Homo sapiens: one gene and its partners. The protein of the gene in region 4 purifies or fractionates together with the protein of the main gene of each other region. This does not show direct contact. Each region holds a gene or a part of one and is shown on either strand. Other genes may lie near its edges. The genes, in order: RAD23B, ARL1, CHCHD3 and ASB1.

What was found.
Region 1: the proteins of ASB1 (region 4) and RAD23B purify together in Homo sapiens (affinity purification with mass spectrometry, with the first as the bait; one large-scale study listed by BioGRID). This does not show direct contact.
Region 2: the proteins of ASB1 (region 4) and ARL1 purify together in Homo sapiens (affinity purification with mass spectrometry, with the first as the bait; one large-scale study listed by BioGRID). This does not show direct contact.
Region 3: the proteins of ASB1 (region 4) and CHCHD3 purify together in Homo sapiens (affinity purification with western blotting; one study listed by BioGRID). This does not show direct contact.

Annotation. Positions count from the first base shown.
Region 1 is NC_000009.12:107,285,817-107,289,939, forward strand, and holds part of RAD23B (UV excision repair protein RAD23 homolog B), read left to right. Parts: intron 1-4,123. UniProt on the Homo sapiens protein: Multiubiquitin chain receptor involved in modulation of proteasomal degradation. Binds to polyubiquitin chains.
Region 2 is NC_000012.12:101,397,497-101,401,619, forward strand, and holds part of ARL1 (ADP-ribosylation factor-like protein 1), read right to left. Parts: intron 3,678-4,123; coding exon 3,566-3,677; intron 1-3,565. UniProt on the Homo sapiens protein: GTP-binding protein that recruits several effectors, such as golgins, arfaptins and Arf-GEFs to the trans-Golgi network, and modulates their functions at the Golgi complex.
Region 3 is NC_000007.14:132,977,427-132,981,549, forward strand, and holds part of CHCHD3 (MICOS complex subunit MIC19), read right to left. Parts: intron 1-4,123. UniProt on the Homo sapiens protein: Component of the MICOS complex, a large protein complex of the mitochondrial inner membrane that plays crucial roles in the maintenance of crista junctions, inner membrane architecture, and formation of contact sites to the outer membrane.
Region 4 is NC_000002.12:238,446,944-238,451,066, reverse strand, and holds part of ASB1 (ankyrin repeat and SOCS box protein 1), read right to left. Parts: 3' UTR 1-4,123. UniProt on the Homo sapiens protein: Probable substrate-recognition component of a SCF-like ECS (Elongin-Cullin-SOCS-box protein) E3 ligase complex which mediates the ubiquitination and subsequent proteasomal degradation of target proteins.

The DNA of each region.
Region 1 (4,123 bases), on a different chromosome or scaffold from region 4:
TTGCATTTAATGACTTGTCAGTTTTTATTTTAATGACTTTAGGAAATATTTTTCATGACAACTGTTTCAATTCTATGTTTGTAGTGGGTTTTAATTAGTATGTGTTTTTGATACGACACCTTAGAATTCCAGTAAGAAAATAAACAATGAAAATTATGTTTTCTAGGGCAACGCTAAGTGTCCTGTTTCTAAGTTGTTGTGAGAACGAGGTAACCAAGGATATTAGAAATAGATCTAAAATAAGATAGGATCTTATTGAGACCTGTTTTTGGTCTGGTCACAGATTTGTCCTTGTTTAATTTTTACCTAGAAGGAACCAAGGAAATTAAGTAACTTACGTAGCCAGTATAGCAACTCTTGTGAGCTTGAGATGAGCATGAGCAAAAATGGAAGAAAGGACTGTGAGATAAGTGGAATCATGGGAATGATTCATTTGTTGAACAAGTAAATGTTTAGTGAGCTTTGCTGGCAGGACTGGAGGAGTACAGGGACCTGTAGAACGTGGTCTGGGGCTTCTGGGAGCCTTATTGACTTAGTCAAAGCTCATTGGCTATAGAGTAGGGGGATATACAAAATGGAAAGAGCAAGATAATTTGTTTTAAGGTGTTTTTATTTGCCCTAGTTTTAACAAAACTTTCTTAGACTTATTAGGCATTTTGTACCATTTACTTGACTATTACTGTGATACATTACATGACCACTGCCTTTAGTGTTAATCTTTGCAAAGATCTTTTTGTTTCTACAATTGTAATGCAAGCCTTCTTATAAAATATTCAAACAATATAGAAACAAAATGAGAAGGTGGTATGTGTGGGGTAGGGAGACCATTGCTAGGAGATTTTCTTCATTATGTGCTTTTTTTGTTTTTTACTGTAAAAATTGTGGGAGACTTTTAAGTAGCCTACATATTAAAGCATTTTGAGATGTGTGATAGAGCACTGCTTCTCTGAAATTCTTAAAAATTCTGAAGTTTAGGCTGGGTGTGGTGGCTCATGCCTGTAATCCCAGCACTTTGGGAGGCCGAGGTGGGCGGATCACAAGGTCAGGAGATCGAGACCATCCTGGTTAACACGGTGAAACCCCGTCTCTACTAAAAAAAATACAAAAAATTAGACGGACGTGGTGGCATGCACCTGTAGTCCCAGCTACTTGGGAGGCTGAGGCAGGAGAATCGCTTGAACCCAGGAGGCAGAGGTTGCAGTGAGCTGAGATCACTCCATTGCACTCCAGCCTGGGCGACAAAGCGAGACTCCGTCTCAAAAAAAAAAAAAAAAAATTCTGAAGTTTAATGGTGTGATGGACATTTAGAGGGAAATGGAATACAGTTTTTAAGCTCAGTTTTATAGTCAATTAGTGTTTTATATTACTGTTGCTTAAAAACATTAAGAAAGGTAGATTTAGGAATAAACCTTTTGAGATAAAAAAAATACAGTGCAGTATTTTATTGCATCACTGAAATGGTGACAAGAAAAAGTATGTGATATACAAATTAATCCTGCAGTCTAACTCTTGACACTGTTTGCCTTGAACAACTAAAAACAAAACTCAGTAAATTTGAGATGAGACTTTAAATGCAAAAGCTGAAATGTGATTGGATTAGTATATAAGTGACATTAAAATTCTACATATACATTGGATGTTTTTGCTAAGAGAATTGCAAAGACATCAGTTTTAATATCTATAAATAGCATATTAGTGTGCTGTGAAGAATTACCTAATTTCGTGGTTTACCTCTATAATGTGATTGTTATAAAATACTGCTTTACCCAGCACCTTGGGAAGCCGAGGCGGGTGGATCACCTGAGGTCAGGAGTTCCAGACCAGCCTGACCAACATGGTGAAACCTGGTCTCTACTAAAAATAGAAAATTAGCTGGGCATGGTGGTGCATGCCTGTAATCCCAGCCACTTAGGAGGCTGAGGCAGGAGAGTCGCTTGAACCTGGGAGGAGGAGGTTGCAGTGAGCTGAGATCGCACCATTGCACTCCAGCCTGGGTAACAAGAGCGAAACTCCATCTCAAAAAAAAAAAAAAAACAAAAAAACTGTGTGTGTATATTGCTTTAGTACTTGCTCTGTATTATACAGTATTTACTAGCCATCATTTATTAGTGAAGTATTCCTGTGGTGGTTTATTGTATTTTCAATATAGTCATGCTAGATACAATTTCATATTATACAAGCTTCCTAGATTAAGGTAATGAGTAGTAAATGTATTAAAAATACTATATCACAGAGGTGAAATTAAGAGTTCTTGGCATATTGGCAGAACAAGATACAGGAAGAAACTGAGAAATCTGGTACATTTTTGCCAGACTTTTGCTGTTTTGATGCCGTGCACACAGTAGGCATTTAGTAAAGATCTTTGAATGAACTGAATATATTCTTTTGGTGAACTGGCAAAGCAGTGATCCCCCAACGTAGTGTGTTTGCATGTTGATTTATTTATTTAATAAATATTTGCTGTGTACTTACTAGATGTCAGGCCCTGCTGTGATGGTATGTGCATTCTAGTGGGATAAAACTGTCAAAAAATACATTTTAAAAACCAGGTAATGGTAAGTGCTATGCAGAAAGTTGAAATAGGATAAAGTATTTGATAATACTTCACTGGGTGGCTACATTTTTGTTGTTGTTTTGTTTTGTTTTTGAGATGCAGTCTTACTCTGTAGCCCAAGCTGGAGTGCAGTGGCGCCATCTTGGCTCACTGCAGCCTTCGCCTCTGGGGCTCAAGCGATTCTCCTGCCTCAGCCTCCCAAGTAGCTGGGACTAGAGGTGTGCCCCACCACACCTGGTTAATTTTTTTGTATTTTTAGTAGAGACAGGGTTTCATCATGTTGCCCTGGGTGGTCTTGAACTCCTGAGCTCAGGAGATCTGGGTGGCTACTTTTAAATTTACTAGTCACTGAAGGCCTTTCTGAATAAGGTGACATTTAAGCTGAGAGCTGAGTAAAAATGAGCACTCGAGAATGAAGAGAATGTTTTCTATAGGGAACTGCTAGAGCAAAGACCTTTAAGAATGTGTTTTGGGTACTGAAAAAAAGCCTGCATTGCTAAGGTGATGGGTAAGAGATAAGGGTGAGTTGGGTAAGAGATAAGAGAGTGAGTTAGGCAAGTGAGTTAGGCTAGGGGTTTTCAGGGTAAACTTGGAAACATTTACAAGCAGGACAGAAATCTTTGTTTCTTTGTCTCTGTCTCTCTTTTCTCTTTTTCCCTCCCTTCCTCTCTCCCTTCCTCCCTCCCTTCTTCCCTTCCTCCCTCCCTTCCTCCCTCCTTTCCTCCCTTCTTCCCTCCCTCCCTCCCTTCCCCCTTCCCTCTCCTTTCCTCTCCTTCCCTCCTTTCCTCCCTTCCTTCCCCACTCCTTTCCCTTCCTTCCTTCCCTTCCTTTTTCAACAAGGTCTTGCTCTGTCACCCAGGATAGAGTACAGTGGCATGATCATAGCTCACTGCAGCCCCAAACTCCTGGGCTCAAGTGATCCTCCACCCTAAGCCTCCCCAGTAGCTGGGACTACGGGGGCATGCCACCACGCCCAGCTAATTTTAGTTTTTTTTTGTAGGGATGGGGTCTTGATGTTTTATCCAGGCTGGTCTCCAACTTCTAGCCTCAAGTGATCCTCCTGCCTCAGCCTCCTAAAGTGCTGGGATGACAGGCATGAGCCAGCACACCTAGCCAAGAAATATTTCTTGTAGGATTTTTAAAGGTTACTTTGATGCTGTGGGGTGGGCAAGAGTGAAAAGCAGAGACATCAGTTAGGGGGCTTGTGCAGTAGTTTTAAGTAATTGCAGCTTGAACCAGGGCAGTAGGAGTGGAGATGTAGAGAAGTAGATGGAATTAGGATATGTTTTGAGAGGTACAGTTGGCTGTACCACTTGCTGTGTCACCTCAGGCAAGTTACTCAGTATGTGCCTTTTGGTCCTCTGCTGTAAAATGAGAATACTAGTATGAAAGTACTAACTTATTGGTATATGGGTTTTGAAATAATATTAACAGTGCTTGGCAATGTGGTACCACTCTCCCTCCATTGTTCTTGCTTAGAAAGCCTCAAATGTGATTAAATTCAACTCAGTGTTTGTACTTGCACCTGAGTGGCCAGAGATGCACCTTGTAGCCACATTGACTTGTCTT
Region 2 (4,123 bases), on a different chromosome or scaffold from region 4:
TTTTTTTTTTTTCTTTTTTTAAGACAGTGTCTCGCTCTGTTGCTCAGGCTGAAGTTGCAGTCGTGCAATCTTGGCTCACTGCAGCCTCTGCATCCTGGGTTCAAGTGATTCTCCTGCCTCAGCCTCCTGAGTAGCTGGGACTACAGGTGCCCGCTGCCACGCCCAGCTAATTTTTGTATTTTTAGTAGAGATGAGGTTTCACCATGTTGGTCACTCAGACTGGTCTCGAACTCCTGACCTCATGATCCACCCGCCTCGGCCTCCCAAAGTGCTGGGATTACAGGCATAAGCCACCGCGCCCTGCTGACCCTGTCTCTTTAAAAACAAATGCAAATGTTATTAGCAATGTTTTTCCCCTACGAATTGCCTTTTGCTCATTTTGCAAAAGATCTTGCTATGATTCAGATCACTAATCCTTAGTCATTGGCTTCTGGTTAGGCCTGGTTTCTTATCTTAATCTTGTTTATATTTGCCATATCTGAGCTTTGGGGGAGTTTTGTTTACATTAATATAATTAAATCTCATCTTTTGAATTCCTTATATGTTCTTATAATTTTCATTTTTTACATTTAATTATTTACCCATTTAGAATTCATTTTTGTGTATAGGAAAGTTGAAAGGCCAGGCACGGTGGCTCACATCTGTAATCCCAGCACTTTGGGAGGCTGAGGTGGGTGGATCACCAGGTCAGGAGTTCAAGACCAGCCTGACCAACATGGTGAAACCCCGTCTCTACTAAAATTACAAAAATTAGCCGGGTGTGGTGGTGTGCGCTTGCAATCCCAGCTACTCAGGAGGCTGAGGCAGGAGAATTGCTTGAACCTGGCAGGTGGAGGCTGCAGTGAGCCGAGATTGCACCACTGCACTCCAGCCTGGGCAACAATAGTGAAACTCCGTCTCAAAAAAAAAAAAAAAGTTGAAACCTAAACTGCTTTTGTGTCTATACTATATATTTTTTGTTTGTTTGTTTTGAGATGGAGTCTCACTCCATCACTCAGGTTGGAGTGCAGTGGCACTATCTCAGCTCACTGCAACCTCCGCCTCCTGGGTTCAAGTGACTCTCCTGCCTCAGCCTCCCGTGTAGCTGGGATTACAGGCGTGCGCTACTACACCCGGCTCATTTTTGTATTTTTAGTAGATATGGGTGGCCAGGCTGGTCTCAAACTCCTGACCTGAAGTGATCCACCTGCCTCGGCCTCCCAAAGTGCTGGGATTACAGGCGTGAGCCACCACACCTGGCCTGTGTCTATATGTTTTAACATTAACAGTCCTGACTCGTACTTGGCCCATACTTAACATAACATGATATTTATTGATGAATTAAAAGTGACTTCCTAAAGAAAGAATCCAACTTTTACTTCTTTCTCTGTAAGACTTTATAAGTCAAATCCTAACACTGCAAGTAACAACAATCCTGCACAACTCAAAAATTGTAAACTGAAGTCAATAATCCATTCCTTTTAAGCAATACTTTATATGATAAAAATACACTATATCATGTGAATTATACCTAAATAAAACTGTTCTTTAAAAAACCTATTATACCCAAGGCAATTAAACCTTATCCTTACATTTAAATTTGGTCTAAGAAGCTCTTATAATAAATATAATGCTATGATGTAAAAAAAAAAAAATTAACCAAATGTTTAAAACTATTAAGTCTGCAATTTATAACTTGGAAGCCATTAAGTCAGTAGTTCAAGAAATCAAAAGTCCTGGGCTGAGCGCGGTGGCTCATGCCTGTAATCCCAGTACTTTGGGAGGCCAAGGCTGGCAGATCAGGAGGCGGGCAAACTGCTGAGGTCAGGAGTTCGAGACCAGCCTGGCCAACATGGTGAAACCCCATCTCTGCTACAAATACAAAAATAAGCCGGGTGTGGTGGCAGAAGCCTATAGTCCCAGCTACTCAGAAGGCTGAAACAGAAGAATCGCTTGAACCCAGGAGGCGAAAATTGTAGTGAGTGGAGATCACGCCACTCACTCCAGCCTGGGCGACAGAGCAAGACTCTGTCTAAAAAAAAAAAAAAAAAAAAAAAAAAAAAAGAATTCAAAAGTACATAGTCCCCTCGTCTGAGGATGCTTTTACCTAGGTATCAACTGGCCTAGAACTTATATTTAAACATCCCTTGATTAAACAATTCAGAATCCAGTTTTTGACAAGAGAAAGAAACTTATCCATCTAATTTTCCAGAGCAAGGGCAATTTTATTATTATCATAGTACATTTGATTATTTTTTCATTTTTTAAAAATGGATTATTTAATGCATCCTCTGAATTTGATCAGTTAGCCAATATATGATCTTATTAACTTCAGTGAATAAGATGTATTGAATTCTTAATTAAGTACTATACATTGTTCCTCCTATCAGGGTAAACTCAAAGAACTTACATTTTAGAGGGAGAGATACATAAGTAAACAAATATATTTTTTTTTAATTTTTATTTTTTGAGACAGAGTCTCACTCTTGTCACCCAGGCTGTAGTGCAGGGGCACGATCTCGGCTCACTGCAACCTCTGCCTCCTGGGTTCAAGTGACTCTCCTGCCTTAGCCTCCCAAGTAGCTGGGACTACAGGCACACACCACCATGCCCGGTTAATTTTCTTGTATTTTCAGTAGAGATGAGGTTTCACCATGTTGGACAGGCTGGTCTCAAACTCCTGATGATCTCTGGTGACCTGCCCGCCTCGGCCTCCCAAAGTGCTGGGATTACAGGCGTGAGCCACCACGCCCAGCCAACAAATACATTTAAAAATAATGTAAAAAAACAGTAAGTGGGGTGCAATGGCTCACACCTGTAATCCCAACACTAGGAGGCCGAGGCAGGAGGATCACTTGAGGACAGGAGTTTGGGACCAGCCTGGGCACCATAGGTAGACCCCGTCTCTACAAAAAAAAAGAAAAAAAAAAGAAAAAGAAAAAGAAAAAAAAGAAACAATATCGGTATAAAGAATAAAGAAGGGTAAAGGATTAGAGAATAAATAAGACTTCTTTCTGGGGAAGAGATGTGGGAAGAAACACGTCAGGAAGGCAGCCATGCAAAGATGCTGGAGAATAGTATTCCAAGCAGACGGATCAGCAAGTGCAAAAGGCCCTGAGCCAGGTGTGCAAGCTCGTGTCCAAAGAACAGAAAGAAGGTCAAAAGCACTGTAAACACTGGGAAGGATAAAAAACGATAAACGTGAGGCCAGCATTGTGCCAGTAACCCAGAAATACATATTTCTCTGAACTTGAATCCTTCTAAAACAGCTAAAAATAAAAAGACATATTTTAAAAGTCACATCAAAGAAGTGACTTAGAATAGATGCTTTTGTTTAAGTGAGCTCTTCTGAACCTCCTGGAAAATCAAGCAATCTGGCTTGAAGAGGAAGTTACGAGGTTAATTTTTGTTGTTGTTTTGTCTCCAACCCTCCTCAACTGTATTTTTGGAATAGAAAATCATTTCCATAAAAGAAAATAATTTTAAAAGGATGGAGGGAACAACCCCTGCATTCTTTTTAATTATTCTTCAATGTAATAATATGTAAATGACTGCCCCACATTTTAAAGTGGTTACGTTTTCTTACCTCCAACATGGCAACTAACTCTGATTTGGAAATGCCAATTCGGTCTCGGTCACAACTGTCTACTACATAAATGACTGCATCTGTGTTTGAATAGTAACATCTCCAGTATGGCCTAGAGAAAATTTAAAAGGGGAGAACATATTGTTATTGTTTTAAGGAAGAAACTGACATATCAATTGCCAATTCTGTCCCACACATGTTAGAATCAATGCCTTAATGATTCACTGTTTCTGGTGGATATATGTACCATATCCCTCAGATGTGATGGAGTCAAAAGAATGTTGATAAACATTGGCTGGGCACGGTGGCTCACATCTGTAATCCCAGCATTTTAGGAGGCTGAGGAGGGCAGATCAACTGAGGTCGGGAGTTCGAGACCAGCCTGACCAACATGGAGAAACCCCATCTCTACTAAAAATACAAAATTAGCTGGACATGGTGGCAGGTGCCTGTAATCCCAGCTACTCGGGAGGCTGAGGCAGGAAAATCACTTCAACCAGGAAGGCAGAGGTTCCAGTGAGCTGAGATGGTGCCATTGCACTCCAGCCTGGGCAACAA
Region 3 (4,123 bases), on a different chromosome or scaffold from region 4:
ACATCAAAAATGAAGTGCTCCCCATGAGAATATTGTGCAAATAACTGCTGAGGTTATCATATCAGATTACAATACTGTATTTAACGCATTTGTATGGACATCTTACCCCTAAGTAAAAAAGCATTACCTATTTTTACCAGTGAGGTGGAAACTAAAATAAAATAATAAAATTACTATCATTTATGGATCAACTACTAAGCACTGTGCTAGGCACTTTACAAACATATATAAAATGTTTATTCAAATTCTATTATTAGTTCATGAACATAAAATGAATTCTGTTCAACTGAATTATCACATCTACCACATTTGGTGTATCTAATTTTAAAGTACTGTTTAAAAATTACTACTTTTTTTTTCCATTTTAGTTTACTTATGTATGGCTTAGATTTTAATTACATATGGAGTTCTACATGGTTCAACTTTAAGAAATACAGGATCATAAGGATTTTGGCAAGTTAATGAAAAAGAAGCAAAACATGAGCACAAAAGCCTTCAATGTGATAATAAAAATAAACATATTTAGCTTGCCATGACTGGTACAGATATGCAAACTCTGGGTCCAAATCAAGGCTCTAAACTTCCTATCTGAATAAGTACTTTATTTAATCTCCGGTGAGTCCTGTTATTCTCATGGGTAAAATGAAATAGTGTAATACCTACCTTACAGCGTTCTATATAAACAAGGCACTCAGCACAATGCCCATAACATAATATACACTCAATAAATGTTAGGTAAGTAGCAGTAATAATAATAGTACCCACTATGCGGGTAGGAATACAGAGAAAGCAGTGATTTTACGAAATGAAGAAGACAATCTCCAAATTCACTAACTACAATGCCATCTCCATCATCTTTTCCAATTTTTCACCAATAAATTCTGCTTTATTTTTATGATCTCTAAGGACTTCTAAAATCACAAATTGACTCTACTAACTCCAGCAGCTAGACCCTTTCACAAGCTGCTTCCTTTCCCTCTTGTCCATAGCTCCATAAGGACAACGATTTGCCCTATTTTTGTTCACTGCTATATCCCCCATACTTATAAAAGTGCCTGCCACATATCAAACACGCAAGAAAAAGTTGTTGATGTATGCATGTGTGAATGAATGAATGAATAAATAAATAAATGGCATATTTCTAACCACAAACAAAACAAGGAAAACAAACTGCAAAAGAACACAAGGCGATGGTATATAAGAAACAACTAACGAGACAAACTGTATCCTCCAAGGGCTTAGCCACCATGTTAGATGTGGCACATCTGTGATATAATCCCAGGCTACATTAAATAGCCTACAACAGGAGGTGCCACAACAGTCCAGAGCCCCTCCAACATCAACACCTAACTATATTTGACACCTGGATTGAAAGAGGATTGGCAGTGGTGCAAACTGACTAAAAAGAATATTATTTTCCTTTCTTAATAAATTCTTATACTTTCATTCATCCTTACAAATAGAACTGCACAAATTCTCAAATGTTTTTAAAGGAATGTTTATAAATTTTAAAAAAACTTTTTTTAAGGTCTGTATGGTGACTGTTTAAGAAACCAAATTTTTTGTCATCAGGGAGTTTGGCAGTAGGACTCTGAACAAATTCTCATTTCCTATCAACAACTTAGCTGTACAATCTAATAAGCCTCAGTTTCCTCAGTTTTAAAATTTGAAGGTTGAACTACTATATAATCTTATGGTCCTTTGCATATAAACATTCTAAAAAGTCTATACCTTAAACATATTATTCCTCATTCCATAAAAAATCTTGAAAAAGGTGGTGGCAGGGGATAAATAAAACAGAGGGGCATTATATTATCTCCCAGCTTGATACTGTTATAATTTCTACTCGATGGGCACATATACTTCTACTGTAATCCTGAGATTTCTCACTACAGTACTCAACAAAAACTACACACTGGAATTCATAAATTTATTCAGTATATAATTACTAGGTGAAAGGGACTACTCTGGTTACTGAGAATGAAGTAGTGAGCAAGAGACACAGTCCCTACTTTCATGAGCCATGATTACAAATAACAGATGCATTATTTTTAAAAAGTTAGGTAGGTATCTATGACACTGCATGGGTGGGACTGATATTTAACTTGAGCTCTACAGGACATTAACTGAGCAACATGGGGAAGGAGAAAGTGTCTTAGGCAGAGGAAACATCAGTTGGGTCCAGAAGCACCAAGAAAGGATTTCCTTCAGTTAGATTCCTGTGACACTTAGAAGGGTCTCTGAGGCATGAAATCACCTCTGCAAAGAATTTTACTTGCTTTCAGATTCTCTTGGAGGACAGAGTTTCAATGGTATACTGACTGAGGTTCAGTTTTGACCAGTGCCCAAAGATGAGAAGCTTCTAAGTTGTACCATTTCCCATTTAAAAGCAATAGATTTGAAACTTCAAAATTGTACCATTCTCCATTTCCCCAACCCTCCCCTCCAAAATATTGCATGGCAATTATTTTCTTCTAAGTTTCCTCTTTCAATGGTTCCTGTAAATTCTTTACTGAGCCAAAACCACTTTGCAAAGAAAAACTGCTTATGTTTTCAGAAACCCCCAATTACTTTCAAAGCTTCCTCTCTGGCCCCTTGGTTTTATACCGCATGGAGCTATACTATTCAACAGCCATCTGCAAAAGGTAGATGAGCTGTCAACCAATTTTTCTCTTTTTGAACCAAATAAGACAGCCCTGCCATCTGGGCCTCTCTGAAAACTACTGCCCAGATAGTGGAGCTATAAAATCAGAAGCCATGTTGTTTTGGGAACACTTCACTAAGGAGAGAAGACCCAGGCTCTCACTGACCAAGGGAAGGCAGGACTTTATATGTAAAGGCAGGAGATAAAATAAGTCTCTCATTATTAACTTGGGTTTCCAAAGATTTAAGAATTATCTCAAAACAAAACTAAACATGCCAAGTATCTTAGAGAATACATTCCTTTTTTATTTATTGGCATTTCCCACTTAATATTTTAGATCTCCTGCTCTAATATATTCTACATTAAGTCCCTGATTTAAGTTTCATTTAAATTTCTTTCTTTTAAATACATATCTCTCCTCATTTAAATTCTCTAGAGTTTCAAGCAAAGAAGTAGGAGTTTAGTGTAAACTTTTCTTGTTTGCATTAAGTAATTGGATAGCTTGCCTAAGCTTAATGAAACAAATACCAGTCAGTGCTGCCCTTAGACCTCAAGCCCTAGCAACTTAGCTCTTTCCTCAGTATATTGTCAATCAGGCGAGGGACTTAAGGTACACCAGCAAAATGAATTCCTAAAAGCCAGCCAAATCTCCTATAATAAATATTATTACATGTCCTTTTAAATGGGAAAACAAATTAACTACTTATAAAACATTCAACTTTCATGGACAGCAGGTATAAAATCTAGTTCTCTATATTTTAGTCCCAGGGTAAAAACTAGCCAGTTTGACTTTACTCTAAAGAACCTCAAGTTTTTAAGAAAGTAGAAAGAGAATTTTAAAGATAACTTTAGCAAGGCATTAACATATTGAACTTCATTCACCTCCATAAGGGAGGCATTACTAGCTCTAGTTTTTTTGTTTTTTGTTTTTTTGAAACATGGTCTTGCTCTCTTGCCCAGGCTGGAGTGCAGTGGCATGATCTCGGCTCACTGCAACCTCTGCCTCCCAGGCTCAAGCAATCCTCTTGCCTTAGCCTCCCAAGCAGTTGGGACCACAGTTGCATGCCACCAAGCCTGGCTGATTTTTGGGTTGTTTTTTTTTTTGTGGAGACGAGGTTTCAGCATGTTGTCCACATGGTCTTGAACTGGGCTCAAGTGGTCTTGAACTGGGCTCAAGTGATCTGTCCACCTCAGCCTCCCAAAGTGCTGAGATTACAAGCACAAGTCACCACACCAGCTACTATCTCCATTTTTAACATGAGAAAAACTGAGAAGTACAACAGAGGTGTGAAAGATGGTGATCTGACTTCCAAAGTCATACTTCTTAAACATCTTAAAGAGTAAACTTTCCTATAGGAATTAGTTTCCATTATACTACTCACCTTTGTGGTCATGTAAGGACAGTTTTTAAATCTTACATTATTCACGGTTATTTTAAAATAGGCTCTTTTAAAATTTGTGTATACTACACTAAGTCAG
Region 4 (4,123 bases):
GCGTTCATTCCACACTGAGAGGTTCGGGTTTGGAGCGTTCATTCCACACTGAGAGGTTCGGGTTTGGAGCGGGAGGAGGGGAGTGAGGCATAAGTGAGAAAGGAGGTCACATGGCCCAAACAGGTACTTCCAGGAGGCCAATCCCAGCCGGTAGGGATCCAGGCCCCGGGAGGCCAGGCCTGCTTGCCGAGTACCGACGGCCAGGTGAGGAGGCAGAAGCTGTAGCCCCAGAGCCAGAAGACCCACACTAGTGTCATCACCAACATACAGGGGGGCCACAGGCTCCCAGTGCCCAGGTTAAGGTGCAGTCCTCACCGAGAAGGCCACATCAGCTTCCTGTGAGTGTGTCCCATGGATCCAGGGGTGGCCAGAGGCCCATCACCACGGGTGTTGGCACTTCCTAAAACCGCACGCAGCGATCTCCAGACTCGTTCTTGGCCATGAGCAGCAGAAATGCTGCAGTGCTGCCTGCCAGCGTACAGGCTGTTCAAGAACCCAAGAGGAATTTCTCACCAATACGTAAACATGCACCACAGCTAGACTGCGGTTCCGTGACTTTGGGATTTCAGAGACAGGCGAACTTAAGAAGAAATTCTGGGGCTGACAAACAGCAACCAACATTTTGTTTTGCAACCAAGAGCATTTCAAAAAGCAAAAATATTGCCCTCTACTTTTACCTTCATTACATAAAAGGAAATTTTATCATCCAAATAAGGAAGAAAATAACTTCAGAATAAAGAACAATCCTTTAAGTTGAACAAATGTGACTTCATCAATTATTTACCATGCTGTTCTCATACGCCTCACCTGCATAGAGCGCTCTGTCCCCAGTGCTATGCTGTGGGCCACAAGGACTCTGGCCCATCGGGGTCCACAGTCCAGCCCGGATCTCCCAGGGTCACACGTTCATCCAGCCCTGTCACCATCTCAAATGCATTTCCACTAAGAAGAGGGACAAGTCACCAGGACAGCAGTTTACACACACATGGAGACTGCTTGCGTAACACATTGCTTCCCATGTGACCCCACAAAACCCTGCCAGAAAGGCACAGCAGGAAGCCTTGTCCCTGTCTGAAGTGGAGCTGCCTCTGTTAATAGGGATGTGGCCAAGGCCGCACGGATGGCAGCAAAGCACAGGCCAAGCGTCTCTCTCAGGCAGACTCTTCCTTGGCTCAGTCCTATGTCTGCTGTATCTTCCTCTCCTTCTCTCAAGAACTTTTAATTTGAAGAATCAATTCATTGAAAAAGGAAAAAGAAAACTTACTAAAAACAATTGTTCCTTCTCTTTAAAATTACCTGTTTAACAAGTACATTTTAACAATGTACTAAATTTTCAAATGTCAAAAGAAAACACCAAAAAACAAGCATTGTTGCCTTAAACACTTTTCTGGAACAAGGCAGAATATAAATAAATAAATAAATAACACGAGTGATGCAAAGAGTCACAGAATGTGGGTGATATTGATGGGTTTATCTAAAACCCCTCACCCGGGACTCCAAAGCTGAATTCTCAGAGTTACCAACGTTGTCCCCCACCCCACCACAGCCCAGCCCAGCCCATCTGTTGACAGCAGCCAAGGCCCAGGGCCCAGGACTGTTCCACAGCCACTGGCAGTGGTGACAGTCAGATGCTTCTGGGATGCAACCAGGGGCAACCTTCAGGCTCCTTCCCCCAGCCCATCGAGCCCCTCTCCTAGGGAGGACTCCGGGCCAGCCAGGCAGCAGCCTCACTGAGGACCACGTTTCCCTGTCCCATGGGACTTGGGCGCCCCAGGGCTTAGAAAGGTGATTTCCTAAAGTGCTTAGGCGGAAAGTGCTACTCTTCCTATTCTGTAACCTGTCCTTGCCAACAGAAAAAAAAGGGAGCTTTAGTGAAGGAAGGCAATGCCACTAAAACCCAGGAGGAATGACCTTAGCTACCCACCCTGTTTTCAGATTCATATTTGGCAGCTATGAAACAAGATACCAAACCTCCAAATTGTTTGGATTCTGAAAAAATTGGCAAAGGCTGGCTTGAACAGAGAGGAAGTTGAACATGTCCTCTGCAAATGAAAAGCTGAGACCCTAGACACCTGCAGGCCAGCCAGGCTGGGCCACAGGCCAGGGAAGGGCCATGAGAGGCCCCCTCCTCCAGCTCATTCTCTCCCCAGATACATCATTCCCTGGCCAGGTCTGGGTGAGTCTTCTCTGCAACGATCCATTCAGTCCACTCCTCCTAGAGAGACCAGGGGCAGTGACCTGGTCCCTCCAAAACAGGCCCTGGGCTGTGCAAAGGAGCATGACGCCCATGCTGCCACATCTGGGTCCTTGCCTCTGTGCAGCCTGAAGGTCACACCACCACACTCACGCATGGGACTCCCACGAGGCAGCATTCCCAGGTGCTGCTTCCCAAAAGGTTCAATAACTGAGCCACCTCCTGCACCGGGCAGGGCTGGGGAGGCCTCGTCCTTAACAGGCCCCTGCAGAAAGTACTCAGTAGAGCAGACGCAGAGCGTATCATGTGTCTACAACATGGCTCACCTCGAAAAAAGCCACCCTCCTCTGAGCCCAAAGGGTGGCAGGAAGAAGAGCCTCGAGGTGGGAGGAGCTAAACAGTAAGCCAGTAAAGAGCCAGAGTGCAGGGAGCTAACCAGCCTCCCTGAAAGCCCCTATCAGCCCTACCAGGGTGATGAGCCACTGCCTACGACCTCCAGTGACAAGGCCCAGTCCACGGTGGTGGCTCCAACTTCCGTATCATCATTCCTTAACTCCCTATAGCTCCTGCCCCAGCCACAGCCCAATTTTTGTCCTAGTCCCACTTTGGTACCACAAAGAACACGCCCACCCCCTCTCCCGGGCTGAAGCCCCTGCAGCACCCAGCCCCGGCTGTCCTGGCCCTCCCCAGCCGCTCACCACCTGCGGTTCCTCTCCTATCTTGGGAAGACCCTCCTGGCTTCAGCAGGACCCAATCCCAAGCTCCCCTCGGGAACAGCACACAGCCCACATTTACACAACCATCACAGCTTCTAACAGTGTCACCTCAGCTGAGGAAACACCTCCCGGATTGCATTTTCCCCTCTGAATCACCCGAGGACTGTTCTTCCCTTCGGAACTGCATCTGCACATACACGGGTCAGCTGGGGTGACCCACACAGAGCCCATTTGTGACACAAGGGGTTGGGGGTATAGAATTCTATCCTCTGGCTGTAGAACGCAATAATGGCCAGACACTGCCTGCCTGCTAAGACACACAGTGATGCTACTAAGTAAATAAAACGGTATCATTGTTCAAGTTTTACAAATTGGATTTCTCTTATTACAGAAAATCAAACACAGATTTGAAATCTGCGCCTTCCTAAATATATCTGAAGTCTAGAATCACCATGGATCCACACAATGGTCCTCATGGGCTTCAAATGACGAAATGTGATTCACTGGAAACAGCAGCAACCTGGGAGGGCTCTGAGGCTGCAGCCACCAGCCCACCTGCCGGTGACCCTCACACCTGGCTGTGCAGCCCTGGGTAAGGGGAAGCCCAACTCATGCAGCCAAAGCTATCAGCAATGATAACCCAGGCCATCTCTCTCCCGGGAAAGACTTCTGACCTCACTGCTATCCCCTGCATAGATTCTAGAAGCAGCGACCAAGACAAAAGAGAGCAATCAACCAACCGCCAGATGTTCTGTCCACTGGACAGCATGCGCCTGGAGGCTCATAACCACCCAGAGGACTCGCTGCATTTTTCACTTTCTGGTACGTGTGGGGGACAGAAGACAGCGCCTCGGGCATTTTCCTCGCCTATTAGAACTGGCAGTGAATGCTGTTGGAACGGTCCTTGGTCCCAAGGAAGGCAGTCATTTCCTGGGGAGTTTGGTGTGGGCCTCCTAAAATCAATCACTGGAAGCTCCCTAAGGTGAAGTGGCAGAAAAATCGTGACACCTGATGAGAGGCACAGTAGGTGTTGGAACAGGTGCCGTGCAGCCAGGAAACCACCCTTGAGTGAAGACACTCACTATGAGACCTCCATCGCAAAGAGAGAATACTGAAGGGGCAAGGAAGGGGCGTGTATGACAAGCGCATGTGTTACCCCAGGAGCAGGAAAAACCAACCAGCAAGTTCATGAACTGCATTTCTGTCCTCTATT